3 separate regions of the Homo sapiens genome follow, and regions 1 and 3 are each linked to region 2. The links come from fine-mapping of genetic effects on gene expression. A gene starts in region 2. Each other region holds a variant in brackets. All regions are shown on one strand. Distances are from middle to middle.

Evidence for each region. PIP is the estimated chance that this variant, and not a neighbour inherited with it, causes the effect. A credible set is the group of variants that fine-mapping cannot tell apart.
Region 1: its variant is the best candidate, but not a certain one, in a credible set for the expression of LRRTM1 in esophagus muscle (GTEx, PIP 0.75).
Region 3: its variant is the best candidate, but not a certain one, in a credible set for the expression of LRRTM1 in lung (TOPMed, PIP 0.71).

The regions. Positions count from the first base shown.
Region 1 is chr2:80,419,438-80,429,855 of GRCh38, forward strand. CTNNA2 (catenin alpha 2) reads left to right here. Exons shown (of 19, transcript NM_001282597.3): 9 at 12-164. Among named protein-coding and RNA genes, the nearest start is that of LRRTM1, 120 kb to the left of the region's middle. The variant C/T (reference allele first, on the strand shown) is at 4,899.
Region 2 is chr2:80,300,761-80,311,178 of GRCh38, forward strand. It overlaps LRRTM1 (leucine rich repeat transmembrane neuronal 1), which reads right to left and starts at 3,992. Exons shown (of 2, transcript NM_178839.5): 1 at 3,392-3,992; 2 at 1,118-3,118. The coding sequence starts at 3,059. The coding sequence ends at 1,491. All of the region lies in intron 7 of CTNNA2 (catenin alpha 2), which reads left to right. RefSeq lists an enhancer at 2,809-3,434.
Region 3 is chr2:80,635,003-80,645,420 of GRCh38, forward strand. All of the region lies in intron 18 of CTNNA2 (catenin alpha 2), which reads left to right. Among named protein-coding and RNA genes, the nearest start is that of LRRTM1, 340 kb to the left of the region's middle. The variant C/CT (reference allele first, on the strand shown) is at 4,049.

The DNA of each region.
Region 1 (10,418 bases), 120 kb after region 2:
TTCAACTGTAGCTTCGGAAAGCAGTGATGGATCACATATCTGACTCTTTCCTGGAAACCAATGTTCCTTTGCTAGTTCTCATTGAGGCTGCAAAGAGCGGAAATGAAAAGGAAGTGAAAGAATATGCCCAAGTTTTCCGTGAGCATGCCAACAAACTGGTAGAGGTAAGTGTGGAGGGGCCTGAAGACTAGAGTTTACCGATGGGTTCAATCTCTGCATATGGCTCTTAGAATTTCACTAGAGAGATATTCTATTGTATTTTTGGAGAAATAAAGTCCTGGAATCATTCTTTCCTTTACTTTCTGATTACTGTACCCCCTTTCGAAGGAATCAAGCTACGAATCATCTTTCTTTTATCTGTCTCACAATTCTAAGCATGCTCTGAAACATATCTGCCATTTTTCCTGAACAACAAGCAGGAGCTGAAACAAAAGAAGTGGAAGGGAACTCTGGAGTGCTGAATACCAGTTTTGATTTGAGGGAGTAAATTAAAATTTCTGAATGGAGGCCTAGGACACTTCTCCCTTTTTTCCCACCTCAAACCCCTGTCCACTCCACCCAGTGGTGCCTAGATGCTGTCCACACTGGGAACTTGTGAAAAAAAAAAAAAAAAAAAAAAAAAAAAACCCACCTTCCCCAAAGAGATGTTTGAACTTTTGGTGGAAGATCTTGGGGCAGTACTAGGGTAAGTTAAGCATTGTAAGTATATTTTATGTGTTAGAGGAATCTGTGGGAGTTGTTTTATAAATGCAAAATTTTATGGGGTAATATTGAAAAAAAATATTGTACAAAGTAAATGACAACTAGGCTGCCTAAATTTAGGAGCTGAAAACGAACAGCCTGGCAAAGGTAGGATTAGTGATGTGGGGCTAAATACAATAGAAAATAGAGTTGTTGCACAACAAAATATGTGTGCTAGAGAACAAGAGCCCAGGAGGGATGAGGATGGATCCTGGAAAATTTAGGGAATGGTTATTAGGGCCAGGTTAAACTTTTACAGGCTCTGAGCACTTAATCCTACCACCACCACCACCACCACTGTGATGCATTCCCACTTTAATTCATAATAAAATAAAATCACTTAAAATGACAGAAAACTTAAATGCAAGCTGAAAGGAAAATAAGTTCTTTTTTTTTTCATTTGGATGGAAAAATCAAAATCCTCAGAAAGTTCTTTAAATGTGAAATCCTCTCTGCTTTTCCTGGAGTGGGTGATGGGGGTGGTGTTCGATTTAGTTGCATGCTAAGCACCTGCTTAGTTTGCGCCTTGGTTAATCCAGCACTGCAGGTGCCTCGGGCTGAAGTCACCCAGCCAACAGGAAGTCCTACATCAAGCCTCTGCTTCTCTAGGATACAGGCTGAGCCATCATCCATGACAGCAGTCAGCAGGTTCTATGTGCAAAAGCCTTGGCCACAATAATGGAAGCTTTGAACTTCCTGCTGTAACCCCAATGTCTTGAGAAAATACCAGCCTAGAGCTAAAACTAGGGTAATACAATATCAAAGCAGTTTTTCTGGCTCTGTTCTCTCATATCAGGCAAGCCTTCTATCACCCTTCACATTCCACCTACATGCTCGGAGAGTTCACTTAGCTATTTAGGGATCCAGAGTCTTTCCAAGGTTGACCTTGGAAGCTCTGATCACTTTCGTATTTTGAGAAGGGGAAGGCGGAGAAGGAGGAGGATATGGGTACAGAAGGAAGGGAAGAAAGAGGAGGAGGAAAAAAAAATAATGCTGATGGGTGCTACAAAGCTTTAAATATTCACATGTAATAAAATAATGTTAGCATATAAATATACCATCCCATCTGTATAATTACAACATTTACAAGATAACTGCAGAGTTTACTGAAAATATTCATTGATGGTGTGTTGTAGACACTCTGGATGAAGAATGGGACATGGATTTCAAGTTGTGTGATAAACATCTACTTTCAGTCCTATTAGTGCCTTTACTTCATTTGCAGGACATATTTGAATTTCAAACTTAACATCTTGTGTAAATATGAGACTGGGGCCAAAGACCCAGCTTTTTCCACTCATTCTCCTTTCTCCTGTGACAGGCGCTGGACACATCCACCCTCTCCCCTTATTCTGTCTTTAGGTTCCATTGTAGGTAAATCTGTTCACTACATGTGATTCTTGATCCTCAACTTGTGACAAGCTGAAAGCTTAGATTACTTGCAGCTCCACATTTCAGAAAACTGCACTTTGCCTCCATCAGGTATTCCCTTCATTTCCCATGGATGGTCACTGTGGCCAGCAGCATTTTAATGTCTTGATGCCTAGGAGATACAGGGGCTAGTGTGTGGTCTGGCCTCTGTGTGACTAGGGAGTAACTGAAATCTACAAGTTTGCATATATACAAAAAAAAAAAAAAAAAACCCAAACTTGAACCACCGAGCTGAGTGTTAGCCTTTTTCTAGTTTTGAAAAGTGTGTGGATATGGGCACCTTTCTTAGTTTCTGTGTCTGTAATATGAAAAAGTCGGTTTGTATATTGATTTTATATCCATTGAACTTGATAAATTCAGTTACTAATTCTAAAATTTTGATAATTTCCTTTTGGATTTTCTATGTACATAGTCATGTGCCTGCAAATTATGACTGTTGTATTAGTCTGTTCTCATGCTGCTAATAAAGACATATCATATGCAAGACTGGGTAATTTATAAATGAAAGAAGTTTAATTGACTCACAGTTACACATATGTGGGGAGGCCTCACAATCGTGGCGGAAGGCAAAGGAAGAGGAAAGACACATCTTACATGGCAGCAGGCAAGAGAACTTGTACAGGGGAAGTCCCCTTTATAAAACCATCAGATCTCATGAGACTTATTCACTACCAGGAGAACAGTATGGGGAAAACCACCTCCACGATTCAGTTATCTCCACCTGGCACCACCCTTGACACATGAAGATTATTACGACTCAAGGTGAGATTGAATAGGAACACAGCCAAACCATATAAGTGTATTTCTTCTTTCCCAATACTTATAGTTTGTTTTTTTTTTTTTCCTTGCATTATAGTACTAGCTAGGACCTACAGTACAATATTGTGGTGATAAATATTTTTGTGATTTCTGGATCTCAGTGGGGAAATTTCAGTTCTTTCCCATTAATTATATTGCTTGCTCTATGTTTCTTTCAGATACTTTAATTAGGTCAAGCTAGTTCTAGTACCCATTTGCCAAAATACTTTTAAAAAACTATGAATAACTATAGAATTGTATCAAATGCTTTCTCTGCAGATGTTGAGATGATTTTCTCGTCTCCTTTATTCTCTTTCAGAGGAATTGATATCAAAGTTATGCTTTCCCTTAAAAAATGAATTGAAAATTTTTTCTTCCTTCTATTTTTTGGAAGTGAATGTATAAGATGAGCCTCATTTATTTTTTAAATGTTTGGTAGAATTCACTGATAAAACAATGTGAGTGTGGAAAGGTTTAAAATCATATGACTATTTAATTTTTTTAAATTTCTTTTAAGGTCAGTTTTGTTAATTTGCCTTCTAGGAATTTGTCATTTAATTTTCTAATTTACTGGCATAAAATTGTCCATAATACATTTGTATTTTTTGTTAGATGTATAAGGATCTGCAGTACGGTTTCTTTTTTCCCCACTCCTCATTTAGCTAATTAGTATGCTCTCTTTTTTCCTTGATTAGTTTTGCAGATAGTTTATCAATTTTAAAAATAAGCTTTCAGCTTTATAGATTTGTTTGTATTCTATTTTATTTATCTCTGCTCTCTTTATAGTTCTTTTTGGTTTTTTCCTGCTTTCTTCCAGTAAAACTTACTTCTTCTTTTCTAACTTATTGGAATGGATAATCATGTCATTAATTTCTTGCCTTTCTTATTTTAGTGCTGTACTCATTTAAGGATATAAATTTCCCTCTAATCTATGCTTAAGTCTGGTTATTTTCTACTGCTCTAATTTTAAGTTCACTTATCCATGTGGGTCCAATATACTCAAAACTTATATATTGAGTTCAATTTTTTTTTAAATTTCTAGTTGATTCTTTTTTAAAGGGACTCCAATTCTCTAGTAAAATTTATTATCAGGTCATCTCCTTTAAAAAAATATTAATCACAGTTATTTCAAAAGCCTAAGTCAAAGAACTCCAATGTTTGGATCAATTTTGTTTTTGTTTTGGGGCGGCTCCACAGATGGCAGCCCCCAACACATCCAAAATCCACTGGGATGTTAATATTGATGATGCAACACACCCACCAAGAGGGTCCAGACAGGTTTATTGCTCATGTAATGGGACTTCAGGGACAGCAGAGCAGGCAACCATGCCAGTTCATAATGGTTCAAACAAAGAGAAGAATAAGTGGGTTTAGTTTTTATCATGTTAGGGCATGTGGCTGGGATCAGGATTTCTATGTGACAGCCAGGATTTGAGTGGTTTGTATTTCCCAATAGCAATAAAAAGGTGGCCCCTCTTATCAGTTTGCCCATTTTGGGGACAAAAGGGAAATGGGGGAAGGGTAGGACTGACTTAAAAACTGTCAGCAAACGTTCTTTTTTTTTTTGAGATGGAGTCTCGCACTGTCGCCTGGGCTGGAGTGCAGTGGCGCAATCTCTGCTCACTGCAACCTCCACCTCCCGGGTTCCAGCAATTCTCCTGCCTCAGCCTCCCAAGTAGCTTGGATTACAGGCACCCGCCAGCAGGCCCAGCTAATTTTTGTATTTTTAGTAGAGACGGGGTTTCACTATGTTGGCCAGGCTGGTCTCAAACTCCTGACTTTGTGATCTGCCCTCCTTGGCCTCCCAAAGTGCTGGGATTACAGGCGTGAGCCACCGTGCCCGGCCCAGCAAACATTCAAAATAGACTAGCACTGTTCATTACAGTTCACCCTTATTGTCTGACTGATGACTGGAATGTGCCATGTTT[C/T]ATATTATTGAATTTAGACATGTTTAAGTGAACTATTATGGGACTCTATGAGGCTTTGAAAATGGAGACAGACTTTATTGCTTGTCTGTTTTTATTAATTTTTCTTGTGATTGTGTTTTTTGATATGCTGGGTGATATTGGATTGAATGGCAAACATGTGTGTGGACAGATATAGAGGGTCTGGATAATGTGTTCTCCTTCCAGAGAGGATTCACCCTATTTTCTGTTGGGCAGCAGAGAGGCAGACCATTTCATTACAATCAAAGATCAAAGTGACTTGAACCTAGGTTGTAGCACTTCTAAAGTTTAGCTTACCCTTCTTTCACCACAGTCCTGAAGAATAATCTTCCAGGGTGGCCAACTGAGGATCAGATGTGTCACCTTATTTGTGAAATCACAAACCCCAATTTTTGTTTTTTAACACCACGAGACTGAGTTTGCTTTGCCTTGCTTTTTGGATGGTCTCAATTTGCTTCTTGCCTGTTGCTATTTGCAACTTAACTGACTGTCAAACGCCTTGGGGAAAAACTGGGGATGAAGCTCCAAGCTCGCTTCTTTGAACCTCTCTTCTCTATGGGATCTTAAGTCCAAGTTGGCTGCCTCAGCGGGGCTGTGCTCAGCTCCATTTTCTGCCTCCTCAGCCCTATGAGATTGCTGAAAACTCCAAGGAATTCTCTTCCTCTCAGCAGCGACCTTCTTTCTGACTTCTCAGATTCTCCTTCAACACTAAGAATTAGCAAATCCCGGCGAGGGTGACTGGAGTGACAGGCGGAAGGTTAGGCTCCCCTCAATGAGCCTCTCTTTTTGATGTAGTTTAAGTTTTGACATCTTTGGCAGCTCTCCTTTGCTTTCAAGCAAATTGCTTTTATTGTGTATTTCTAGTGGTTCTCAGCAGGCAAGTGGGTCTCTTGTAGGCTACTCCGTCATGTCAAGAAGCGCAAATTCCTGAGAGGGCTCATTTAGATAAGTTTATGGTGTTTTGTTGTTGTTGTTTTTGTTGTTAGTATTTTTAGTCAGACATCTTTTTATCCAGTGGAAATTTTGCGACTTACATACCTCAAAAAAATAAATGAATAAATCAATAAAAACAGTTCTGACTGAACTGAAATAACAAGCTTGGAGGTCTACTTCCTACAATTCCCTCACTTAATGCCTCTTCTCCCCATTAAGCACAACCTTCCAATCCTTCCCAGGGCGCCTTTGATCTCTGTTTGAAAACCTCTGATGAATCTCTACATTTCCATTAATCACATAAGAATCATTCATAAATATGTGAAATAATCAATCTATGAATCAGTGATGATGGTTTTAGTCCTTCAACATTTTTCTTGAGTTTAATGATAGTATATTCAGTTTGCTATCTATTTTATGGGTTTTTTTTCCCTTGTATTTGTGTGCCATTTTTTCCAAGTTTGACATTCATAAAAATAGAGTCTATGAAGTGATTGGGCCCTTTTACAACCTACAGAACTTGAGAACCTTAGAAAAGTCCTCAGCAAGGACAGTTTTAGTATATATAAAATATTAGTAAAATGTTCATAGGAAAAATAATATGGGTTCTCATAATTGCTTTAACAAGTGAAATTTTGAGAAGCTTTTGTTGTTGTTGTTGTTGTTTTCTCCACAATATTTAAAACATTTAATAAAATTTGGGGAAACTTCCACTGGGGTGTGTTGATTAGAATTTAACAGGTCAACTATGATGTAAAGTCACTATAGGAAGTATCATCTGTAGAACTAGATAAAATAATTATTAGTAATTTCCTCTCATCTTCAGAATCATGCCCTTCTAAAGATTAGCTAAGGACTTCAGGGTGGGGCCGACCCTGAGGGTATGCCGAGCTGATCCAGAAACACCTGTGGTACCTCACGTCTAAGCCTTCTGGAGAAATGGAATACAAATTATGGCAACTCAGCAGCAAAGCAGTTCGGTCAGGGCTGGGGTGGAGTGGGTGTAATTTGGGTACAAAATATGCATCGCCACAATGAAAATAAAAGCTAATCTTGAAAATGAGATGCAAGATCAACATAGCTATTTTGGGCCTCTGAACTTGTTTTATTCCTTCCATTGCTTGCCTGCTCAGTCAACCTGCCTGCTTTCCCTTCTCCTCCCATCTCTACCATGCACACCTGAGTGCAAGCCACACATTCTATTGTGCAGGCAACTGCAGTGGCCTCCCCACAGGCCTCTTTTATCTGCCTGGCCCTCTACAGTCCCTTCTGCACAGAGCAGTCAGAGTGAATTTCTAATAATGCAAATAAAATCATATAATTTCCCTGCCTGAGGCCATTCAGAGACTTCCTCTTCTTATCAGGTTAAAGACCAACATTGTAAAGAAGCTTACGTGGCTTTCAGGATTTGACCTTCTCTTCAGTCTTCAGGCTCACCGTCCTGTCCCCTCCTTCCTCCACCACCCCCAACAAGGAATCAGCCACACTTGCCATCTTTTGCTTGTTAAATGTGTCATACTCCCTCCCATCCTAGACCTATGCTTGTGTTGTTTGTTTCCTGATGCATTCCCCACTCTATCCTTTCCTCTAGTTTCTAGGCATTGTTCAGCTTTCAGCCTGAATATCATGGCCCCAGGTGGGATCAGTTCCTTACGTCTTTCACTTCATGACATCCCTTTTACTTTAGGATTGTAACCATTCAGCTCTACAACTGTATGCTAGTTCTTCTGCTTAGTTTACCAATTCCTTTAGGAAAGAGATCAGGTCTAATTGAATCCTAACTACAACCCAGCTCCTAGCCAAGCACCTAGCATATAGCAGGTATTCAAGAAAGAGATGGTGCTTAAAAGAGAATAAAATAATAAATGTAGCCAGTGATGTTGCCAGCTTTTGGGCCCCTGAGGGAATATATTTCTATAGCACAGTTGTAGGATCCTAAAGGTCACCTTGGAGATCAGCAGTAAAGAGGCATTGTACTTTTTTAATTGTCTAATTTATTACCAAGAAGAAATTTCAAATCTGTGAAGAACTAATGTGAAGAAATACTATTTGTACCAAGTAGAAAACACCTGCTGTTTGCTACGAGGCTCCCTGAGTTGAATTAACTCTCTCAAGAGGCTCCCAAAGTTGTGTCCCTAACTCCACTATCATTCCTTTCCTGTCCTCTGCCTGACAAGCATGCTTTGGGTTCTCATCCTCAGCTAGTGGATGTGAGAGAGGGAGCTGGCTCTATCTGACAAAGTAAAGTACAGCACTGAAGCCATAGCAATGATGAGTTAGACAAGGGAATCTCAATTCTTTGCTTCATCTTCTTGACTTAGTTACTCCTGATAGCAGTGCCCCATGAAGGATGAGAAGCTGTATCTACTGGAAATTCAGGGCTTGGAAGTCAGAGTCAAACCCTAATACTCAGAATCACTAATGTGATCATCCATCAGTTCAGCACCAGAGTGCCTTCCTTTCACCCTTGAGTAAATTGCTCTTCTCAATTAATCCTTCCCCTTGCACAATGCTGCATTCAGCAATATTTCCTGAGAGGCCCATGTGCTGATGCTGGTCTAGTTGCTGGCAACATAACCATGAACAAATCAGAGGAAGTTCCTGCTCTCATGGGACATGCATTCTCTTGGGAAAGATAAGAAAGGGAGAGGTAAGTGTATACTATGTAAGGCAGAACTATGTGCTGTAGCACAAAATTAAACAGAGTAGGATGATAAAGAATGAAGGAGGAGGGCATGTGAGGTCGGGAAAGTCTTCCCTTCTAAGATGACTATTAAATGGAGATGTGAAGGGAGTGGAAGAACATTCCAGACTGTGAAAAAAACAAGTCCAAAGACCCCAGGGCAGCAGTGTGCTTTGCAAGTTTGGTAGAAAACAAAGAGACCAGTGTGACTGGAGCCGAGAATGAGAGGAAAAATTACAGAGATTAAATTGAGAGCTGGGTATAAAGATTTTGTAGTTTACTCAGATATTGAGTTCATTGGAAGGTTTTGAACAAAGGCATGACATAATCTGACTTCCATTTTTAAAAGTTCACAGTGCTGCTTGATGGAAAATATAGAGTAATAAAAAGCAAAGAAAGAAGAATATGTCCAATGATATTGCAATAGTCCAGCAAGTGATTAGTACTATGACTAGAAGAGAGGCAAGGTCAGTGGGAAGATGCGGCTCAATTTTCCTGTATTTTGAAGGTTGAGCTGAGATATTGGATGTTGGGATGTGTGAGACAGAGAAGAGTCTGGGATGAATCCATATTTTGATAAGCTGCAGTGACATAATCAGTTGAAACTTTAATAAAACATAGCCTACAATCCCAGACTGTTTCTCAGTTGGCTCTGGCTTCAGTTGTCTGATAGATGTGGTCCTAAAACCCCTACACAAATGTCCTGGGTTTAAATAAATGTAAGAGTTTTGTATGTTCCAGGGCCTTGTTTCAAACCATGAACTAAAAAGAAAATCTAGAAAAATTGCATCAACAACTATATTGATGATGATCATGCCACTGCACTTCAGCCTGGGTGACAGAGTGAGACGCTATCTCAAAAACAAAACAAAACAACAACAAAAAACTACATTGATGGAATTGGACCTCCATGCATTTTTTTAAGACAAACCCAATATTTTCATACCCCTTTTTCTCCTTGCTGCCTTCCTCAATACAGCTAATAATATTTGAACTACAACTGAGTTACTGAAGTTTCTCTAATCAATTGAGCCATAGCAATTCTGTAAATAATAATACTCTATAAGAGCTATTTTGTTCAGCTCACTTATGTTAAACTTACAGTAAATTTTGTCATTTAAGAAGTATATATTCCAGTACTATTCTCCTCCGTAATTTAAGAATTCCCCAATTCTTAAACCCTACCATATTTTGTAAGGTTTTCTATAATACACAATAAAGCATTGCAGAAAAGTTCAAGGCCCCCCCTTAGACTCTTAATAACTATTTAGATATAAAGCTAGGGTTTTAAAATTAACTATTTATAACCTTATTTAATGCTTCTGACAACCTTATGAAGTAGCCATTATTTTTTACTTCAAATTACAGATGAGAAACCTGAGGTTTTAAGAAGTTTAATAATTGACCCAATGTCACATAGCTAGAAAGAGGCAGAATCCATGCATAAGCCCGAGTATCCCAGACTCCAGAGACCACATTCTTAGCCACTGTGCCACACTGCCCCCAGGCTCTTATTCAAGGTATCTGTACAGCCTAAAGTCTGATCCTTCATGTAATTATTTAGTACAGTTTCTGTCCCCAAAGTAATTGTTTAAAAATGTTAGCTGCTGATGTTGGCGTAATTGTATAGGCATTAAATTTCATATCTCTGAAATCACATTTTAGAGAACAGCTTTATTTTACTGCACATACCCTGAAAGTAATACATATTACTGCAGAAGAATTCTTATATACTAGTGGAACAGATCATGCAAACTGCTTTCAGGTACTGATATTGGGCAGTGAACTAAGCTCACCCACCAGCTTCACGAGTCTTCACCTGCACAGTTTGCATCGTTCATATCTGTTCAAATTACTAAATGCCGCAGACTTTCAAGCTTGCTTGC
Region 2 (10,418 bases):
TGCTTAAATTGTCATCTGATGAAGGAGCCCTCCGTCCAATGCACACAGCCTTCCCCTTCCCTTCTCTGCACCCACCAACTGCCACTACCACCACCTCCTCACTCTTTAGTTCAATAGAAACTGAAATCTCAATGATGGACCTGGAAACCTATGAGGGGTGAGAAGGAGCAATCATCACTCTCAACACAGAAAAAAAAAAAAGGGAAAGCAAGCATTACACAAAAGGGCCATCTGAGAAGAGGCAGCTTTTCTGTCCTGGGTTAACAAATTATTCCCATCTCAGAAATATGCAAACACAGGATCAAATGAGTATCTTCTCCCACTCTCCCCACCCCATCACTGCTCTGTCACCTCTGCCCCTAAAGTCTCTTGCTACAAGTCATTACCCTGCAGGCATTCATCCTAAGGTAGGTTTTTCTCCTCATTCCCCATAGAAACTAGGAATGTGCTGTCACTGTTTGGGAGCCTAAGCTTGCTGCAGTCTTAGCAATGTGCTCCAGAAGCACAGCTTTCAGCCCTAAACATCGGGATTCTGCCTCCTTCCCCTCAGCCAGACCAAAGAGAGCAGTGAGCTGAGGGGCTCCCTTTAACAGGGGGTACAAGAAGGGCACAAATGCTACTAAGTCTGGTGAATCAAAGACTCAGGAGAATTAAGAACAGGTGGCATTTGGGGATGAGATTTTGAGGTGATTTGAAAGATGGTTACATTAAGTGCAAAAATGTTTCGTGTTCCTAGGAGAAACTGTCTGGCATTGCTTTTTAAAAACCATTTGCAATGCTCTCTGCTTTAAAGGCTGAGTAAGGGTGCCCAGTCCTCAGTCCACCTCTCAGTTGCCTGAAGGTGGTTAGATTGCACTGTCCCTGCCCCAGTAATATAAAGGGTCTTGCAGTTTTTCTTTTTCTAGTCCTTACACATGTGGAGTAAATTAACATAAATCATTAATCTGATAAGCTTTCTTTGCCCTTCTTTAAAATTTCAAATTGAATCTGACTACGTTGCTCCTGGATTTTCCTTCTGGCCCCTGGACAACTCCCTCCCCACCCACCAAGGAAATTTTAACTGTTGCTTTTCTTGTAACACAGGTAACAATTCATTTAGGTTACACCAGTCTGTAAAAACTGTAAATGCTATTTTATTTTAAACATTTTAGTTTACAAAAAAAAAAAAAATCAATGATTGGTACCTTTTTTACACTCTCAGATTCCTGAATATGGACAGATCTTCAAAGGGAGGAAGGAGTTCTCATATGAAATTTAAGATAGACTGTCCTGAAGGTTGTGGGGTGGGGTTTTTTGTTGTGTTTTAATTCGCTTTTGTTTTTAAGACACAATAAAGCTAAAATGTCAAGTCTCTGGGAGAGATCCCCTTAAAGTTTCAGTCAAGGAGCATATCAGAGCACAGACAAGGAGACCCCAGCCTGGTGCCCGCCGGCCCGTCCCGGCTGCCCAGGCGTATTTGGTAGCGCATGGGTTGAGAGCCACTGGGACAATCACACCTCGCATTCCCTCGCGGGCTGCTGGTGGCAGGTACACGAGCCATACTCGTTGATGATCACCAGGGCTCCCTCAATGTGGTTCGGTTTGTAATCAACGTAGTATTCCTGGGCAGACATGGCAGCCATCTGATGCATGGTCTGTTTCTGCTTTTGCTTCCTGCGCTGCGTGACAAAGCACTGTCTGAGCTGCCTGAGGCTGGCTGGGAAACACTTCCAGGACACGTAGAGCACCAGGACCACGATGAGGAAGGAGAAGATGAGGGCCATGGTGCCCGTGACCACCTTGTGGATCTGCACGGCGTTCTCGGCGTGCTCGCCGCCTGGAAGAGCCACGGTGGCAGGCTCGAATGTGCCGTCGTGCTGCCCCTCCCCGCCGTCCGCGAGCGTGGTGGCCGAGCTGGCAGGGGGCCCCAGATCACTGCGGTTGGTGACGGCCGAGAGCAGGTGGCCGCTGGTGGGCTCGGCCCCATCCTCGCACAGGTGGAAGGCGTACACGGCGTCCAGGACGTCCTCGCCCTGTGCGTACTCCGGGCTGGCGCACTGCAAGTTGCCATCGTAGCGCCCCTGGAAGTTGTTGAGCCACGAGGCTAGGGCACACACGTTGCGCCCGCAATCCCACAGGTTCCCGGCCAGGGTGATGCTTGTCAGGGACTTCCAAGAGTTGAGGATCCGGGGCTCGATGTAGGTGAGGCGGTTGGAGTCCAGCTGCAGGGACTGCAGGTGCGGCACGGTCTCGAACACATGGGGCTCCATGTACTCGATCTCGTTGCCCGACAAGTCCATTTTCTCCAGGTTCCAAACCCAGTCCAGCGAGCTGACCACAATGGCCACCTTGTTCCTCCGCAGGCAGAGCGAGTGCAGGGAGATGAGGCGCGGGAAGTGGGCGAAGTTCACCTTGACCAAGTCGTTGTGCTCGAGGTGCAGCTCGGTGAGCTTAAACAAGCCGGCGAAAGAGTTGCGCGCCAGACTCTTGAGCTGATTGTATCCGATGTCGAGAAACTTGAGGCTGCGGCAGTCCTGGAAGATGCGCACGGGCACAAACTGGATGGCGTTGGCCCGCATATGCAGCGTGGTGAGCTTCCGCAGCCCGTGGAAGAGGTCGGGCGCGAGCGCCTGCAGCTTGTTGTACGAGAGGTCCACGCTGCGCAGGTTGGGCATGGGCCGGAAGGTGGTGTTGGGCAGTTGGGTGATCTGGTTGGAACTCAGCGTGAGTTCCTTAACTCGGCGCAGTTTCTGAAAGGCGTCCCCCTGCACGGAGCAGATGTGATTGTGATCCAGATAGAGCCACGTGAGCTGCATTAACCCCGTGAACTGGCCGGCGCGCAGCTCCGAGAGGCTGTTGTAGCGCAGGGACAAGCCCAGCAGGCCGGACAGGTTGTGGGGCGCCTCGGTGAGGTTGAGCGCCTCGCAGTACAGCAGCCGCCCCTCGCACCGGCACAGCTGCGGGCACCCGCTGGGGGCGGCGGGCAGCATCTGAAAGCAGGCCCCCAGCAGACACAAGACCACCCCCGAGGGCCTCCTCAGCAGCCAGTATAGACAGAGACCGAGCAGCAGGAAATCCATTAGCGAGAATCTTTCCAGAGAGACTGGAGAATGTCCATTGGAAGCGCTCGGTCAGAAATCTACATCATATTTTATTCCGAGGGAGGGGAAGCGGGGGAGGGGGAGAAAAGGGCAAAAAATCAAATAAATACATAGAAATAAAGAAGGACCCCCCTCCCCAAAAACCACACGTTCACCTCTAAGCATGCAGAAAGCTGGGCAGCATAGAAAGTTCACAGCCACGGAAAGATCAAAGAGATGGTGATTTGGTCCATGTTAGATGCTGCAGCAAAGAAAAGGGAGGAAAAAAAAAATCTTCGGGAAAGAATTTAATTAAAAAGTGTCTTACCCACCCTTTTCCAGAGAGTGACAACCTCCATTCAGCTGCTCCCTTTGTGTGCAGGCTAATTATATGCAGGGCGAGAGAAGACCCCTCTGTGTTTCCGAGGCAGCCCCGGTCCGCGGCCGGCGGATCTGGCAGGCGCACAATGTCTCACTTTGCTGCTCGGCTCGGGGCTGCAAGGGCGGCCGGCAAGGCGGGGAGGCGACTTCTAGGACCCGCAAGTTTCCCAACTACGTGCCGGAGCCCGAGCTTCGCCTTCCTGCCGCCTTCCTTTCCCTCTGCAGTTCGGACTGTGACGTTGTGGGGGGAAAAAACTCCAAACTCGGGGCTCGCGACTCCCCAGGATCTGACAGTCTGGTTAATGTCCGTCATTGGAAACGACCACTGACCGGCGCCACCTTTTACTCCGCGGAAACAGCCTGCCATTCGCGCCCCGGGCAGCTGCAGAGAGCGGGCTCACTCATGCTTTGCGGGCGGCGGGCGGCGGGCGGCGGGCGGTGGGGAGGTGCGGACGGCGGCGCGGGGAGCGGCGAGCGGCGCCCGGGCTCCTTCCCTCCACCAGGCAGTGTGCGGCGCGAGCTTGCACAGGCACCTACTGCTCACTGAGTGTCGTAAGCTGCTCACGATTGTGCGTCTTCCCCGAGCACCTCAGACATGGGCAGATTGAAAAGGGGTGGGCATAAAACCAACATTTTACCGAACCACTAAAGTAATATATGTTTTTTGATGAAACGGAAAACACTTTCAGCTTTTTTGTCCATATTTCAAAAAAAAAAAAAAAAAAAAAAAGGAGGGGGGAGGGAGGTGGAGGTAGGGGTAGCATCATCCACGACAAGATATTTCCAAGTGGGAAACTGAAATGTTCTGTGCTCTCCCCCTTGCCTTTTGGGGATATATTCTTTTCCCCTTTAAAACTGTCTACGTGTAAGAGATACGTAGGAATCTGTAGAGAAATCAACGTTTGGACCTTTGCTTTAGAAAAGCAACTTGAGAGAAGACACAGGAAGGCAATGATTTGGGGCTTGGCTAAGATTTTTGGGGTTTTTTCCCCCTCTTGCGGGTACTGGAATTCTGCAGTCAGCCAGCCCTTTTTTGAGGTGGAGAGGGGAAATGCTTTCCAAACCCACCTAGTTTGGGAAGCCATCCAAGTCCCGGTGGTGTGAGATCCAGTGTGGCAAAAAGGTATGTCTGTGTGCAGGGAGACTTGACTGAGATCCCTCCGGGGCTTCATCAGGCTCCACAGATACATATGGGGTACAGAGTGGATTAAAGAACGATTGTACTGTCTGACATGGGGAGGGCTTACCCTGACTTGTGCTGTTCATGGTGATTACTGGGCCCTGCAGTGCACCCCACTCCAAGAGAGTGTGAATGTGTAGGGACGTGATAGTTTAAGCCATAATGAAGCCTACCCGTCTCCATACACACATCCTAATTAATCTTTGAGACTGCACTAAGTTGTGCCACTTTTTCCTCTGAGTATGACGAGAAGCCTTTGCCTCATTATTTCTATTCATAATCATTTATAGATAGGAGTCCTTACAATGAGCTCTCCCCCCACCTCCCCACACACACACCTTGTGCCTACTGGTCTGTAGAGGGTCTGCCCTGGGGAGGGTCAGTTGGTCATCTGTTTAAACAAAGTCCTCCAAGATGGCTGAGAAAGCCTGCGGGAAGTGAGTGTGGGCAAGCCTTCCTTCTTGACAAAGATGCCCAGGGAGATGGTAGGGAGAGTCAAATGTGAGTCTCCAGCTCCACTGTTTGAATTCCCATCGTTTCTGCCTCTAAGGAAGTCAAAATCAGTAGGCATTATATGTAGTGGCACTTACTTTGATAGGAATGAGGGTGGATTACCAGAGCCAGGGTAGATAGACTGGACAAGTAACTGGATTGGTCCTTAGCATCTAAGCTGAAGAGGCCAACCAATGGAATCAAAGTCACCAAAGACTGGTGGTACTTTTCAGGAAAAGTCATATGAACAGGGGCATGAATCATTCCATTTTGTATTCATCTGAGCTCTGCCCTGGTCATTCATCTCTGAGATGTATCATTTAATTGGAAGGAACACAAATCTGAAATGTCCTAGACATCACATGCTGTCTTAGGAGTTAGAAGAGACATTAGAAAATCAACCCCCTTAATTTTGCACGTGACTAAACTGAGGCCAAGAGACATCATGGTTTATCCAAGGTCATACAGCTTGCAACTGGCACAGATGGTTTTTTCTTTCTTTCTTTCTTTTCTTTTCTTTTCTTTTCTTTTCTTTCTTTCTTTCTTTCTTTCTTTCTTTCTTTCTTTCTTTCTTTCTTTCTCTCTCTCTCTTTCTTTCTTTCTTAATTTGCCATTCTTGATGATTGCCTCTCTGTCACTCTTGCTGCCTACCTAACTCTGGATCAGGCATTTGCATGTTTCATCCTGGCACCTCCAAGGTGCTGCGGAACACTTTAACAGACAGACAAACAAATTCACCATCAAGTGGTTTCACCTCTTGCCAAGACAATTATTCGTGACAGCAGGCCAGCTGATGGAGCCATAAACTCTAAAGGGTTGGGAGGTGGGGGAGGGGTGTTGAGGAGGCACCCGCAGGGTTAAACAGCGGCCAGCCATTCAGCGAGTACTGTGAGTACACACCACCCAATCCCTAGGGTTGCTAGGAAAAAAAAAAATCCTCCTAATGCTGGCTGCTTGGCAAAGTGGTGACAGAGGCTGCCAAATGGGCAAGAAGAGGTCCCACTTTGGATGTCACTTGATTTGTAGAGCTGGTGCAGAGAGGCAGAAGAGTTGAGTGTTGGCAAGAAAGAAAGGGAATAAAATTAAATTCACTGATTTATATGTGAGTTTTCTTCTAAGTGTGCTACTCAAAACTTACAAGATGCTCCTAGGCTGTAATTAAAATAAATAAATTATATATATATATTATATATAAATATATATTTTCTATATATTGCTTTTTGCATTATTATCCTGCAAATCATTTCATCTATATGGTATCTTTAAGCCTTTCCCACCTCTAATGTGGCAAGTTTGCATCTTTTCTACAGTTTTAAACCCCTTGGCAGAACCGTATACATTAACAGATTGAAATGAGCTTTATTGAAATTTAGCTATTCTAAGTCATCTAAGTTGCAGAATCCCAATTTATTATGTATTTAAAGCATACCAGCACTGATTAAATCAATGCAAATTAGGTTAAATAAGAACAACATGAATCGAGTGTTTCAGCAAAGTTGAATCGAGAAACGACAACTTTTGAGTCACCACAGCAAGTCGATATGGCTGTTTTTCATGAGTTTTAATTTCATGCCTGTAAGTGTCCAATGAACTAAAAAAGGAAAAAAAGAAAAAAAAAGCTCACCTGAAGTTTTTTTTCTTTCCTCCTGCTTATTCTCTCATATGTCTGTACCTGTCTTTTGAAAATATCTGATTCACCAGGTTACAATGTAGCTATTGCATGTACTGGATCAATCTCTTCTTCCCGGGTGACCATAGATTTCTGTTGGCAAACTTCTTCTTCAAATGTTGTATATTGGATAAGAGATGCTTTATATGCTTTGAAAATACCCTTGACATTTTCCATGTTTGTCAGGGGAAGGAACCTGAGCTCATCTAGCTGAACCGCTATAGCTGCAAGTCTAGTACTAATAGTTGGGCATCAAGAATACCATCCCAAGCCATCATGCCAACATGTGATTGGGCACTGAGGCCAGACCTCCAGTTTGGGGTAAGAAATGATAAGAATCTTGAAAATATGGATTCAGCAAATGGGAAGGAAGTCTGGGTTATATGAGTTATGAATCTGATGGCCAAACATAATCTGGAACTAAGGGGAGGTAGAAGAGAGAAGCTCATGGAGCAAATTCGTTGTAGTTAGAGAGGCCAGAAGTATAGCTTGACGGAGGGAAGAGTCGATTAATTCCTTCTCTCTTCAACCTTGTAAATTAGCCTTTGCCTAATGAGCCCTCCTGTTTTTCGTGGTACTCTATGTTGTGAAGTGGAGTGGGGGAGTAACATACAATTTTTTTTTTGGTATGTCATTACTTCTGTTTTATCTCAACACTTCCAATTTGTTCATTTTAGTCAAAATAATTTGTGAACACAGAGGTGCAAGTGCAGAAAGTCTGAAATGAATCTGCATTCTGGGGATTGGCTTTCCATTAGCAATCTTTGTCAATGTTCAAGGAAGGAAATTTGAGTGATTATTTTAATGTTCTGTCATCGCTAGCACCAGCCTGGACCTTGATCTTTATGCTGTTGTCTTTAATTTTCAGTGGCAGCGAACCATGGCTTTTCTTTAAAAGGAAACCTTTAGAAGAATTGGCGGAGAGTGGGAGTCACAATTTCAAAAAGAGAGAATTAACTTTGTTGTTTCTGTGGGCACATACCATACAGCTGGCATTTTACAGAATGCTCAAAAGGTGCATGGAGAGGCTGAGGGTGGGGGCCCCAAGGCTGCTCTCAGGAGATCCACTTAGGAGAAACAAATTAGAAATTGAGGTCATTCTACTTATCAAACTTTGTCCAACTCTTAAAGCAACGTGGTAACATGGATAGCAATAAGAAACTAACTGCCATGCTCTATGAATGATGTAAATGATGAGAATAAATAATAAAAGAAATAATAAATGAATTAATAATAATAAATAGAAATGCAAGTTCTCCTGGGCATGGTGACTCATGCCTGTAATCCCAGCACTTTGGGAGGCTGAGGTGGGCAGATCATCTGAGGTCAGGAGTTTGAGGCCAGCCTGGCCAACATGGTGAAACCTGTGAAACCCCCTCTCTACTAAAACTACAAAAATTAGCCAGGCGTGGTGGTGGGTGCCTGTAATCCCAGCTACTCAGGAGGCTGAGGCAGGAGAATCACTTGAACCTGGGAGGTGGAGGTTGCAGTGAGCCGAGATCACGCCACTGCATTCCAGCCTGGACAACAGAGTGAGACTCTGTCTCAGAAAAAGGAAAAAAGAAAAAAAAGAGAGAGAGAGAGAGAAAGAAAAGAAAGAAATGCCAGTTCATGAGGCCTGTCCTCCCTCTCCACAGGTTTTCTCTATACTGGTGTAGAGAACATACTGGTGCTCTGATTATGCCATGTTATGCTTACCTATGTTTTTATATTCTCTCCATCTTTGCTTACCTTCATTTTAACTATCCTTCAAGGTTGATGGCAAATCTCCTCTATGATTTCTTAACTGACTCCGAGGCCCCTGCCCTCTATAAAGCAATCCCTTTTTCTTCTTCTGAACTCCATTAGCAGCTTACTTTTATCAATCTTGTGGTCCTGTTCACTTTATATGAGTGTGGCAATAATTTCTAATGATAGTATTTTAAAACTGAAAGGGACATTAAACATCTTGGAGATAAAGAATAAAAAGACCTTGTTGGGATTTCTGCTTTGCCACTTTTTAATCGGTATAACCCTATACAAGTCACTTCTTGGTCAGTGAAATAGGGCTAAGGATGGCTATCTCAGAGGATACTTGGGGTAATTAAATGAAATCATGTAAACTCTATAGAGTTTGTTCATTTAATTTTTGTCACTTCTGTGTTTCTCTATTTACATTTTTTTTTGTTTTTGAGACGGAGTCTCGCACGGTCACCCAGGCTGGAGTGCAGTGGCATGATCTCGGGTCACTGCAACCTCCTTCTCCCGGGTTCAAGTGATTATCCTGCCTCAGCCTCCCAAGTAGCTGGGATTACAGGCGCCCGCCACCACACCCAGCTACCACATCTCAAAAAAAAAAAAATGTAAATAGAGAAACACAGAAGTCACAAAGATTAAATGAACAAACTCTAATAGAGTTTGGCCACTCAAAAGTGTAGGCCTGAGACCACAAACCTTGGAGCTTATTAGAAATGTAGATTCTCAGGCCTCTCCCCAGACCCATGGAATCAAATCTGCATTTAACCATTAGCCCCAGGTAATTAAATTTTGAGATGCATTATTGGAACATTCACAAATTTTAACCTGAAATAAAAACCCAGATATCATTGATTCCCTAGTTTTGTAATTGAGAAGCTAAAGGGACAGAAATGTTAAGTGATTGCCCACCCTTGCTAGTGGAATTGGGTCCAAAAAAATAAAACTTTCTGAATAATGTGTTTTCTCTCCTATTAGATTTTAAACACTTAGAATGGAAAGTCTATGTGTACCACAGGCCTGAGCACTTAGCAGGGCTCTTAAAGTTTGATTTTGTAATTGGTACAGCAGGCAGTGTAGAGCCTTCATAGGTGCTAGCTTTAGGTATCTTTCAGCTGGTTTATTCCCATATTATCCTAGGAGATAATGGTATTCTGACATCTGGCATAAGACTTTGATTGCAGTCTTCCAAGGCAGGCAGAGTTGCATGGTAATTGATCCCATGGGGCAGCCCAACATGTTGCCCCTTCACACATACAATTTTGGAAGAGTCAAGACAGCAGGGACAAGTGAGGGGAGGTAAGTTGGAGGTGCATTAGGGTTGTCTTTCTGGGAAAAGCTTTGATGTTAACAGAGTTTGCTTACATTACTCCTCAGTTTTCTTATCACTGCCAATCTGCTACTATGGCATGTGTGTATTTCTCATGAATACTTTATTATAAAAAATGTACTTTGGGAGGCCGAGGCGGGTGGATCACTTGAGGTCAGGAGTTCTAGACCAGCCTGACCAACATGATGAAACCCTGTCTCTACTGAAAATACAAAAAATTAGCTGGGCCTGGTGACGGGCGCCTGTAATCCCAGCTACTTGGGAAGCTGAGGCAGGAGAATCACTTGAACCCGGGAGGCGGATGTTGCAGTGATCTGAGATCGCGCTACTGCACTCCAGCCTGGGTGACAGTGCGAGACTCCATCTCAAAAAAAAAAAAAAAAAATGTAAATAGAGAAACACAGAAGTGACAAAAATTAAATGAACATGAAGTCACCTAAAATTCAATCACCAGAGATGAACTATTAAGTTTTGGGTATACATTCTTTCAGAATTTGTCTGCTCTTATTTATTAATTAGGTTGTTTCTGGTTTTTAGTCATTATAAAATTTACTGTGATTAATATCCTTATAC
Region 3 (10,418 bases), 330 kb after region 2:
CGGATGCTTAGATCATTCTCTTCATGTCAAGAGGTGGTCTTTGTGAAGATAACTCTTGCAAGAACCTGAAGTATAATTTAGATGGAAGATAGATAATAGAATGGTTACAACTCATTGTTAAAAGTAATAGGAAACCCCTACCTGCATCTGTGATCGTGTACACAGTAATCATTTGAAAATTATTTGAATGTGTGTTAATGTTAGTGGTGGATTTACAGCTCACAATGGAAAAAGCAGTGACCAGGAAAAAAGAAAATGATTTGGAGGGCATTATTCTGTGTCAACTCAAAAAATATTTTAAAGAAGACAGAAAAAGTTCAATTATTAAAAACCCATGGATCGACTGCTCAAATTTAAAACTAATTTAGTTAAAATTACTGATTTTTAAACTATTATACTAAAGACCTCTTATGAGCCCTTAAATGATGATAGCATTTCCTCTTAATTCTAATTTCTGTAATGAAAAAAGAGTTGAAATTTTAGGTTAATGTAGTGAATTATTTTATATAGCTACATATGTGTCTAACATTTTACTTCAATTTTCTGTGCTATAGTTAAGAGCTCATTCGTTATGAATTATGTGAGGAGAAATTATATTAGAGGTAGAAGTGATATTAATATACTCTTAATTGGAGCAATGATTGCACAGGTGACATGAGTCAAATCATAGCCCTCTCCTGTGCAGTTCTGTTAGTTAGAAGGCCCACACTGGATATGGTAAATGGTTTTATGATGATTGCTAACTCTCATCAATTGCTAGTGTTTGACTGAGCTATGTGTTGAGAAGAATGCTGAGACCATGGCTAGGATCAGTAGGAAAAAAGGACCTGATTGATTGGGCATATCTGTTAAGGATACCAATGAAGAAATGGCAGTAAATGTGTCACACACTAATCATCCTTGTTTTATTGGTTCTAGAAAGGGCTTAGAGTATTGACAAGTATGGGTTGTCTTAAGGATGCCCATTGCTTTTTTTTTTTTTTTTTTTGATATATATCTTCTTGCCTTTTCCTGGCTTTTACACCCATTAGCCCAGGCACTGTCCTTTTCAATAACCTTGGATTTGTTCTTTGGAAGGTCTTTTCATATAACCTGCCATTTGCTACTTTATTTGGTTAGTAAATGTGTGCAGAGCAGGACCAAAGGCAGCAAGATTGTTGTACTTATGTTCTGGAAAGCTAGTTGGATGAGATTTTCAAGTAATCCTAAAGAATATGTAGATTCGAAACTGGGAATTTATTGGTAGACTTAGATGCTGAGATAAGGTCAGTCTTAGTTAGAGATGGCAGGTGCTGGCTTCAGTGGTTTAAGACCGAATAAAAGATTAAAAATTATGCATTTATAACCCACTTTGTAGCAAAATACAGTTAAAGATTTAGGAAACAGTGCTAGGGAACCCAAGTGTTTGTGTTTTGAAGGAGATAAACACAGAGCTTTGGGAGATTTGGCCTTCAGTGTTTGGTAGGCACTTCCAAACAAGAAGGGGGCTCCCTTTTAGGGGTAGTGAGGGATCTCAGCTGGGGTCTAACAGTGTATACCTGAGAATCGAATGAGGTAAGGTGGTGTCATCCTTTACCAGGTAACACCATTTGGTTTTTAATATGAGATATTTATAAATGATATTCTTAACCAAAATGAATAGCTGGAATTTGGGGAATTTAAGGTCCTTGAAGTGGTCGTATAAAATATTTTATATAGACTATTTATTTTGATGCTTCCCAAATTACATGTTTAAACATCAGCTTCCCAGGCTAGATTGCCTTTCCTACACCTTCTAGTAGAGCCACCTTGACTCTCTATTATCAATATTCCTTACCAAGTCCTAAATGTTCTTAGATATTTTAGGTGTCACATTTTTACATAAAATTCCTATGTTTTCTTGCACTCAGTCTTGACTACCCCTTTATTCCATCTAAAGGATTCAGTAGTGCTAGAAAAGATACATAAGTGTTGGTATTTTCCTATTCCCCTCATGAACTTCTCCATTCCTTATCCCTAAAACTGTAATATTCAGGCACTGAGACCAAGCCAAGATGGTGGTAGCTTCAGTAAGAAGAGAGTTTAAAAAAATCTAAAATGCTGAATGGGGGAAACTTTGAAAGGAAAAGAAGGATGAAGATGTAGGAAAAGAGAAACATAAATTTTTTAAGACCATGTTTGGACTCACCTGGTGATTTAAGGAAAGATGGGTCATAATAATAATAAAAGCTGAGATGTATTAAGGGCTTACCATGTGCCAGGCACTCAACTTCAGTGGCATTATCTCATTTAATGCTTTATAATACTAGAAAGTGCTATTTTCATTTTTAATTTTAAAGAACTTTTATGAGGTAGAGGTAAGTTTAGTGGTTGTTCAAGATCGTGTAGTTAGTGATCCATCCAGTCAAGGTTTGAACTCAGGCTTTAAGTCTAGAGTCCAGGTTTCCCTCAGTAGGAGAGATGAAAACATGCATGTAAGAATGAATTACCAGTGACAGAGAGTGCACAGGAGAGGAAGAAAGAGGTGGGGAAGAGGTGATCACAGGAACAAAAGGGGCTGGGGTCCCAAGGAGAGGCAGCAAACATTCACTGGGAACGGAATCTCTCTGCTCTCTCCTCATCCTGGACCTCGGTAGCAACAGAGCCTTTGACTAGTTATTTCCATACACCTGATGAGGAGAGGATCACAGGCTGCATGGGTGTTTACTTCCCCCAACATATGAATAATGCCACATTAGAACATAGCTCCTAGGGCTTAGATGAGAAGAGAAGTGAAAGAATGAGGAAGGATCGTTCCAGATCTTCAGATTTTGCTAATTTTCCAGGCATAGTACTCCACCAACCTGCACCCAAACCGCAGCCTTTGACTCTTCTAGTCTACTTTTCTCTCAGTGATTATGCATTGCATGCTGGAGGGTAGGAGCCATTTTGCAAGTTATTAAATGGCCTTCAGTACTTAGCAGCAGATACCATGTTCATACAAGGTTAGGCAGTTCAGAAAGGGTGGGGTCATTTAGTGACTTTGATCCATTTTATGAAAACATATTTCTCATGGGTTCCTAGATAATTGTTCCTCTTACATTTGTCTTCTGGTCATGATGATATCACCTAGGGAGGGAGAAGGGTAGAAATAGAGGGATCAAAGGTAGTGATGCTCTGCTAGCTGGCTCTCCTATCGGTAAGGCAAAAAGGAGGCTTAGCTCCTTGCATAATTATTTATGAGACATAAACCTTGGGTGGTCAAGACATGCTGATGCACAGAATCAGAGACAAGATCAACAGTTAATGCCTTATGTATTCATGTGACATAAGGACTGTCTGCCCAAGAATATTTCCCAATTATGGGGGGGGTGCCTGAAAGCCCATTGGCTCTTCTCTTTGTTGCATAATTCCTCATGATTTTTTTGTTACATGGAAACCAATAACTTAGAGGAGGTCTCTGGCAGGAGATCCTGAAGGGTTGGGATAAGCGAGGGTGCTGAAAGGAAGGCAAGGAAAGAGTAAGTATAGGAAAAGAAGGTGGGGACTACCTGGATAAACAGGTGGCCCTGTTCCGAACTTTCCAAGGGCCAACCTGTCAGTACTCCCACTTATCTTTGAGATTTCCATGTTAGAAAGAATGCCTTGTTTCGGGTTGAGCAAAAACTGTTTCACCTTTATTGGTGAGAAAAAAAATGGCTCTAAGCCATATTTAGGAAATTTGTTGACTATAATTAAGATTTCATGGGCGTCCCCAAGGTTTACTTACCCATAATTGAAAAAATGCAAATGAAGACAGTTAATCAGTGGACTGGCCGACTATGAAGCACTACTACCTATGTAAATGAATTAAAAATGAAGACACAAAATATGTCCAGTTGAGAAAGTTACCAAAGAGCCAAGTGGTAAATTCCTCAGCAAGGCTGTGGAGAATTTTTTCTTAGCCTGACAGCCTGCAGTGCCTTCCTGCCAAGGTCTTTGCCAATTTAATCTTGAGCCATTCCATACAGATTTCCTCACAACTGGCCTTCAGCACTGGCTGGTTCTCTGGCATTACTTAAGGAAGCCCTGAAGAAAAGATAACAGACCT[C/CT]TTGTCCTCTTTTCTGTGTAATTGATCCACTACTTAGAGCTGTAAAATATTTGCTTTACAAGATCCTGTTATCAAATGGAATTTGAAACTCTTTAGGAGTTATCGCACAGAATTTCACTTATCAGGGATCAGTATGTGTTGTAATATTAACTCTTTTAATGTGGTTTTGTTTGTTTTGAGACACAGTCTGTTTCTGTCACCCAGGGTGGAGTGCAGTGGCTCCATCTCAGCTCACTACAACCTCCGCCTCCTGGGTTCAAGTGATTCTCCTGCCTCAGCCTCCCCAGTAGTTGGGATTACAGGCACCTGCCACCACGCCAGGCTAATTTTTGTATTTTTGGTAGAGATGGGGTTTCACCATGTTGGCCAGACTGGTCTCGATCTCCTGACCTCAAGTGATCCGCCCACCTCGGCCTCCTAAAATGCTGGGATTATAGGCATGAACCACCATGCCCAGCCTTGATGTGTGTGTGTGTGTGTGTGTGTGTGTCTGTGTTTTTAACAATAAATACAACATATCTGTGATGGTCACTTTTACCTCTAACACCATCCTTCCTTGTTAAAATATGCAACCAATTTTTATCACCTGATTTAAAATCATCCCCAAAATGTTTTGCATTTCTGTTAATACTTAAATCTTCTCCTTAATGATTTCATTAATTAGCAACTCATAATATGGTATTAGTACAAAAAAGTGCACAATATGTCTGTAAAATCAGCTGTGGAAATAAAAGCATAAATGCAACATCCTTTAGATAAAAATATTTGTCGGCCGGGCGCGGTGGCTCACGCCTGTAATTCCAGCACTTTGGGAGGTCGAGGTGGGCAGATCATGAGGTCAGGAGTTCAAGACCAGCCTGACCAACATGGTGAAACCCCCATCTCTACTAAAAATACACAAATTAGCCAGGCGTGGTGGCACACATCTGTAATCCCAGCTACTCAGGAGGCTGAGGTAGGAGAATCGCTTGAACCCGGTAGGCGGAGGTTGCAGTGAGCCGAGATTGTGCCACTGCACTCCAGCCTGGGTGACAGCGAGATAACATCTCAAAAAAAAACAAAAAAACAAAAAAGTCAGTATCAGACAATATTTGATAGCTAACAAACAATAGAAATCAAACAATTCAAATACAGAAGTCGTGATACAATGGATGATATATCTGTGCCATAAACAGAATCAAGTTTTTTTGGACAACCCTGTTAAAATGTCTGCTCTTGGGAGGTAAATAAGTTTCCTTTCCCACACTACTTAGCAGATTCTGAAGGAGCAAGGTGCCTGAGTGATTAATAATGCCTGCCATGGACACTATGGATGAGAATTTGTTTGATGAGAAAGAGTGAGTAGACTCCAACACAGAAATGAGAGCTTGCTATCAAGGAAATGTCTTTCTGTGAACATATAAACATTCTGAGATAACTTAAGTGGGAAAAGATGTGATTAGGCTGAACCTTTTCACCATGTCTTTGTTTGCTTGAGTTATTTATTACCCTGGACTTTCTAGAGGTTTTTAAAAAGTGTTATTGATATAGACTCTGGAAAATGTACGCAGGTATTTCAAGATATTTCAAACATGTCACAGTTTCTAAGGACATCAAATAGGTCTTCAAAGCCTCATGGATTTTTAAAACATGAAATGTTCTTCTTGGAGGATAATAGGCTCCAATGCTCTGGGTTTCTAACCTCTAATTCATTAACAGCAAAGCTGACTTGTAGCAAAATTTTTTTTTCCTTGCAAGCAATATGTGACTCCTTTGAGGGAGATAACAGTTTAAATATAAATAAATGACCAGCTCCAGTGGAAAGATTCCAGTTTCCTTGAGGTGTTTGCTTTCAATTTATTGCCAATTCTCCCATCAAAATTTCCTACCCTGAAAACCTACTCTAGGTCTGAACATGTTTAGAACAACCCCCTTAAAATCGTTCTTGTTCTTATATGTTAAAGCTATGCTATTCCCATTTTAAAATATTGCAAAAGGCTAAAGTGGACTTTACACATATTTAGGGAAATATTTTAGCATTATCAAACTCATTAGTGTTATTGGCTCTGACTTACAAAAATGAAAATAAAATAGCAAGGCCCAAATGGAACTGGTTCCTTCTTCCAGGCATTTCTAAGCCATTTGAAGTAATCAAAGTAAACACCTCAGTTCTTTTATTTCAAAATCACCTTCCAGATGGATTTGGCTTATTTTATTCTATTTAGCTTAGCCAGCGGTCCCATGACATTTGCATTATTTTTAATCCAATGACAGATTGCTTTGTGATTTGGATTTTCATGAACTGCCATTTATGTGTCATTAATTTTTGTTAGTAGATGATCAGCTTTTTTGAAAAAAGACATACAATGTGAAAATTGATCTCTCTCTCCATGCATATTGTAAATATATGAATTCAGAACACACAGTCAAATCCTAATTCTCTTCTTTAATCGTATGCCCGGCCTCCACAAGTTAACATTCTAAGACATTTACTATGTCATGTCATCTGCAATGTGTCCCCTACTTGTTTTATATTATTTTTCACTTTTGACAATACTATTATTTGTTTTTAAAGCAAGCTGTTACAAAATAGCATTTATTTTATTTCTATCTTACCTCAGGAAGTTCACCATTCTGAAGGGTAAAAGATTGCTAATTACTTAACTATTCCCTACTTAACCAAGGAAGGTTATTTTCTATTCAAGTAAAATACTTGTTGATGACGTTATATCTTAGATTATTAAAAATATCTTAGATTATTAAAAGGATATTAATATTGATTTTAAAGGTCTTATTCTGAGAAATTTTTTGGTAAATTTATTGAACTTTTGTGTATGGATTTAATCTTTGTAAAAACAGTAAGGAATATGAAAGGACAAAATCAAACATGTTATACACCTACAGTATGCAGAACATCACCCTACATGAAACAATTGGGAAGATCAATATAAGCAAAACATGATTTTTTTAATATTTACTCCCATAAATACAACTGGACCTCTGATAAATCACCTAGATGTAACATACACACCTCAAACTCGGTATGTCCAAAGTTATACTCAGCATTGTAGCACTTCAACATCCTTTATATTTCCGCAATCTAGGTTGAGAGCATTGATGTATACTAAGTTGGACTAGTTAGGTATTTGAGAATTGTCCTTCCTCGTCACTGTTAACCATTCAGTCACCAACAACCTCTTATTAAAGAGTGTTTAGATATCATGCCCACAATGAAGCTGTTTCCCTTCTCCTATCCCTACTTGACTCAAGGTAAATTGCTATTCCTTTTGTTCATTTAGCATCTCGCATCCTACTAAAACACTGTCATACAGTGTTAAAACCTTTAGTTTGTGTCTATTTTTCTCATTGTATTGTGAGCTCTTGTGTTTCAGTGCTTATGTCTATTTGTGTTTCTATACCCAACACTTAAGCACAGTAGTTGGCAGAAAGTATTCAGTAGGTGTCTGAAGAAATACTTGGATGATGTGTAGATGGAAAAATGTAGGGATAGACTGGAGGATAAAAAGTCAGTGATAATTCAACATTTCAAGAGGTGTAGTTGCACTTTCCTTTGAAAGAATGTGGTTGACTTCTGCAGTCGAATTCTGTTTCTGTTGAAACTGAACACCTGTTGCAGCATAAGTCCTGTTTGAATGAAGTAGCATGCAGCTAAGGACATAGGCTTTCAGAAATATTCAGTTGATAACATAAGCTGTAGCAAGAGTCATTTCAAATACTTATTACGATGTTCTTCAGCTTTGGTGATATAAGGAATTAGGCTGCACAAATATTGATAAATGGAAGAATCACAATTCAGATAAGTCTTTGCTCCAGTCTTTCTGCCCATTCAAAACACAAAATGAGGAGAGTATAGGGAACAGAAATCTTTTAGAAGTTGAGTGGTATTAAGAAGAGTAGGAATAGAGGCAGGGGAAAAAAAGACAATGTCCTATAGAAAGGCCTATAAAACAGCTCTCCTGCCCCTATTTGCTTTTCATGGACTGTAATAGCACAAGATGGGAGGAAACATCTGTTTTCTTTTAAACATAGTATTTTGATGTTTTAAGAGAATCATAATAATTAGCAGAAGTCTAATTTCCTGTGGTTAGGGACAGCAGATACCTATGGGATGGAATAGGGAGAATGAGTGTAGCAGATCTTGGTAGATTTTGAGGGCTGAGGATTCATCTGCTCTGGATGGCTCTGGGAAATAGCATGGAGGAATGGTAAGATCATGGGCTCAGTGGTTAGATGGCCTGGGTTTACATCTTGGCTTCACCACATGTTAGCAGTGTGATAATGGGCAAGCTATATGCTTCTAAGTCTCAATTGGTCAAGCCTTGTCTCAGGGCTGGTTGTGAGATAGAATGAAATAAACGAAACTCAGGGAACTAGTTCAGAAAACAGCACATGGTCTAATTTGTTAAATGTATGCCCTTGTTTTTAAACTAGCTGAAAATAAGCAGTTTCTCTTAGGTTAGATACAGGAACTTAATGGGATATCCTATAGGAATATAAAAGGCCCTTAACCAGGAAAAGATGGATATGTCTTTCTGCTGAAAAGGCCTGTCACTGTAATTCAGGTCAGCTTGAGGAAGGGCTGAGAGGTGGTTGATTTTTGAGGCCATTTTAAAACTAGCAAGACTGGACCAGGTAAAGGATTAGATGACTAATAAGAGTAGCTGAGCCCTGCCTAGTATAAATGTGCTTCAGAATAATGGAGCAAATCCAAGACAAATTAGCAGAGATCAGTTTCCAGTGTCTATTTATTTCCATAAGGGTGACTCAAGGCCAGGAAGAACAAGGAAGGGCTGAGCTCTGGGCAGCAACATACCTGAGGCCAGAGGCTATAGTCAGCAAGGATTTGGGCTATGAGGATGAGACTAAGAATCACAGATTGTGAGAGATGAAGCACTTATCAGACATAGCCATGATGTTAAAAGGATGTTGCCAGGTTTAGGGGACAGGCTTCCAGCCTGTTCATTAGTAGAAAAGAGTTCATTTTGGATAGGCAATAACTAAAAAACAAGACCTGAGAGATCAAGTGATGCTTCGGGGGAACATTGCTCCATGGTGGGGTTCAGATGAGTGGGCCTTGGAGAGAGATAGTAGTGGTCCTAATCCCTACTTTGCCAATGACTGCAGGGACAACAACTTACGTTACCTCCCTAAGCTTCAACTTCCTCACTTATTAAATGGGGAGTAATAATCATTCCTACTTCGAGAATTTTTGAAAATTAAATCACACAATTAAAAGGACTCAATGTCAGGCGTCTAGTAAGTGCTCACTGAATTTTGATTATTATGAAAACTTATACGTATTCACTTACCTATCTTGTTGAAAACGCCATCATTACAATAAGTCACAAAAGAGAATGCAACTATGTTAAATAAATGTTCCTAAACTTGGTATTTAAAAACTGTTGCCATGCAGCTTTATTCTAATATCTTTTCTTTAGGAAGTGAAGTTTTAGCCAACCTTGCCAATTGGAAAACAGAGTTTTGGCACCATCTTGGAAAGGCATAAAGAAACCCATTTTTAAATTGGAAAGAATTGTGATTGTGCTGATAATGATCTAAATCATGAAAGTGCATCTACAGAAAAGGGCAAAATGTAACCTTTGGAAATTCAACTTTTTTTAAAAGTCAAATTTTGTATTAACTTTAAATTGGGCTTATTGTTTGTGGAAATATTTGTTCCAGTTCAGTTGGCTGGATCTCTCACCTCCTCACTTTACCTTGCTGCAAATTCAAGATCTGCCTTAGCAGGTGGCTTGAATAAAATTCTTGGCTTTATATTTCAAAGCTATCTCACTCTCAAACAGTGTATTAGGTTTATTTACAGGATTCCTGCATCAGGTTTGAAAGGCAAAGGGGTTCTGAAGAAGAGACAGGCTCTCATATTTTTGCTGCAGAATTAAACACCATCTATTTGAAAATGGAATCTGTGGTAAAAATCTCCAAATTTACTTGTAATCCCTTCTCTTCAGATCAGCTCAATTCTCCCAAGACTCACTCTTTGGGGACCATTTAATAATACAAGAGCAATATCATCTTGTTCTATTTCTACTAATTCTGTTGCCCAAAGCAAATCAATGAAACGTCCCTGTCATATTTTACCCTTTATTTACTCATAGCATGCGATAGAATTAACTAATTTTATGAATTAACATTACTCATTTTTGAAACCTGACAGACTTACAGAGAACTGTGCATTGGCCAAAGGTGTTAGGTATTTAGCTTCTAAAGAAACTGTGACTTATCTGTTCCTGATTGTTCCCAACATTTTGCTGTCTCATCTCTGTCCTTCATTATTTACACTTCTACCTGGGGGTAAGATGGGAAAGACGAAAAAGTAAAATTCATGTGAGATAACTGGCTATGATATTAC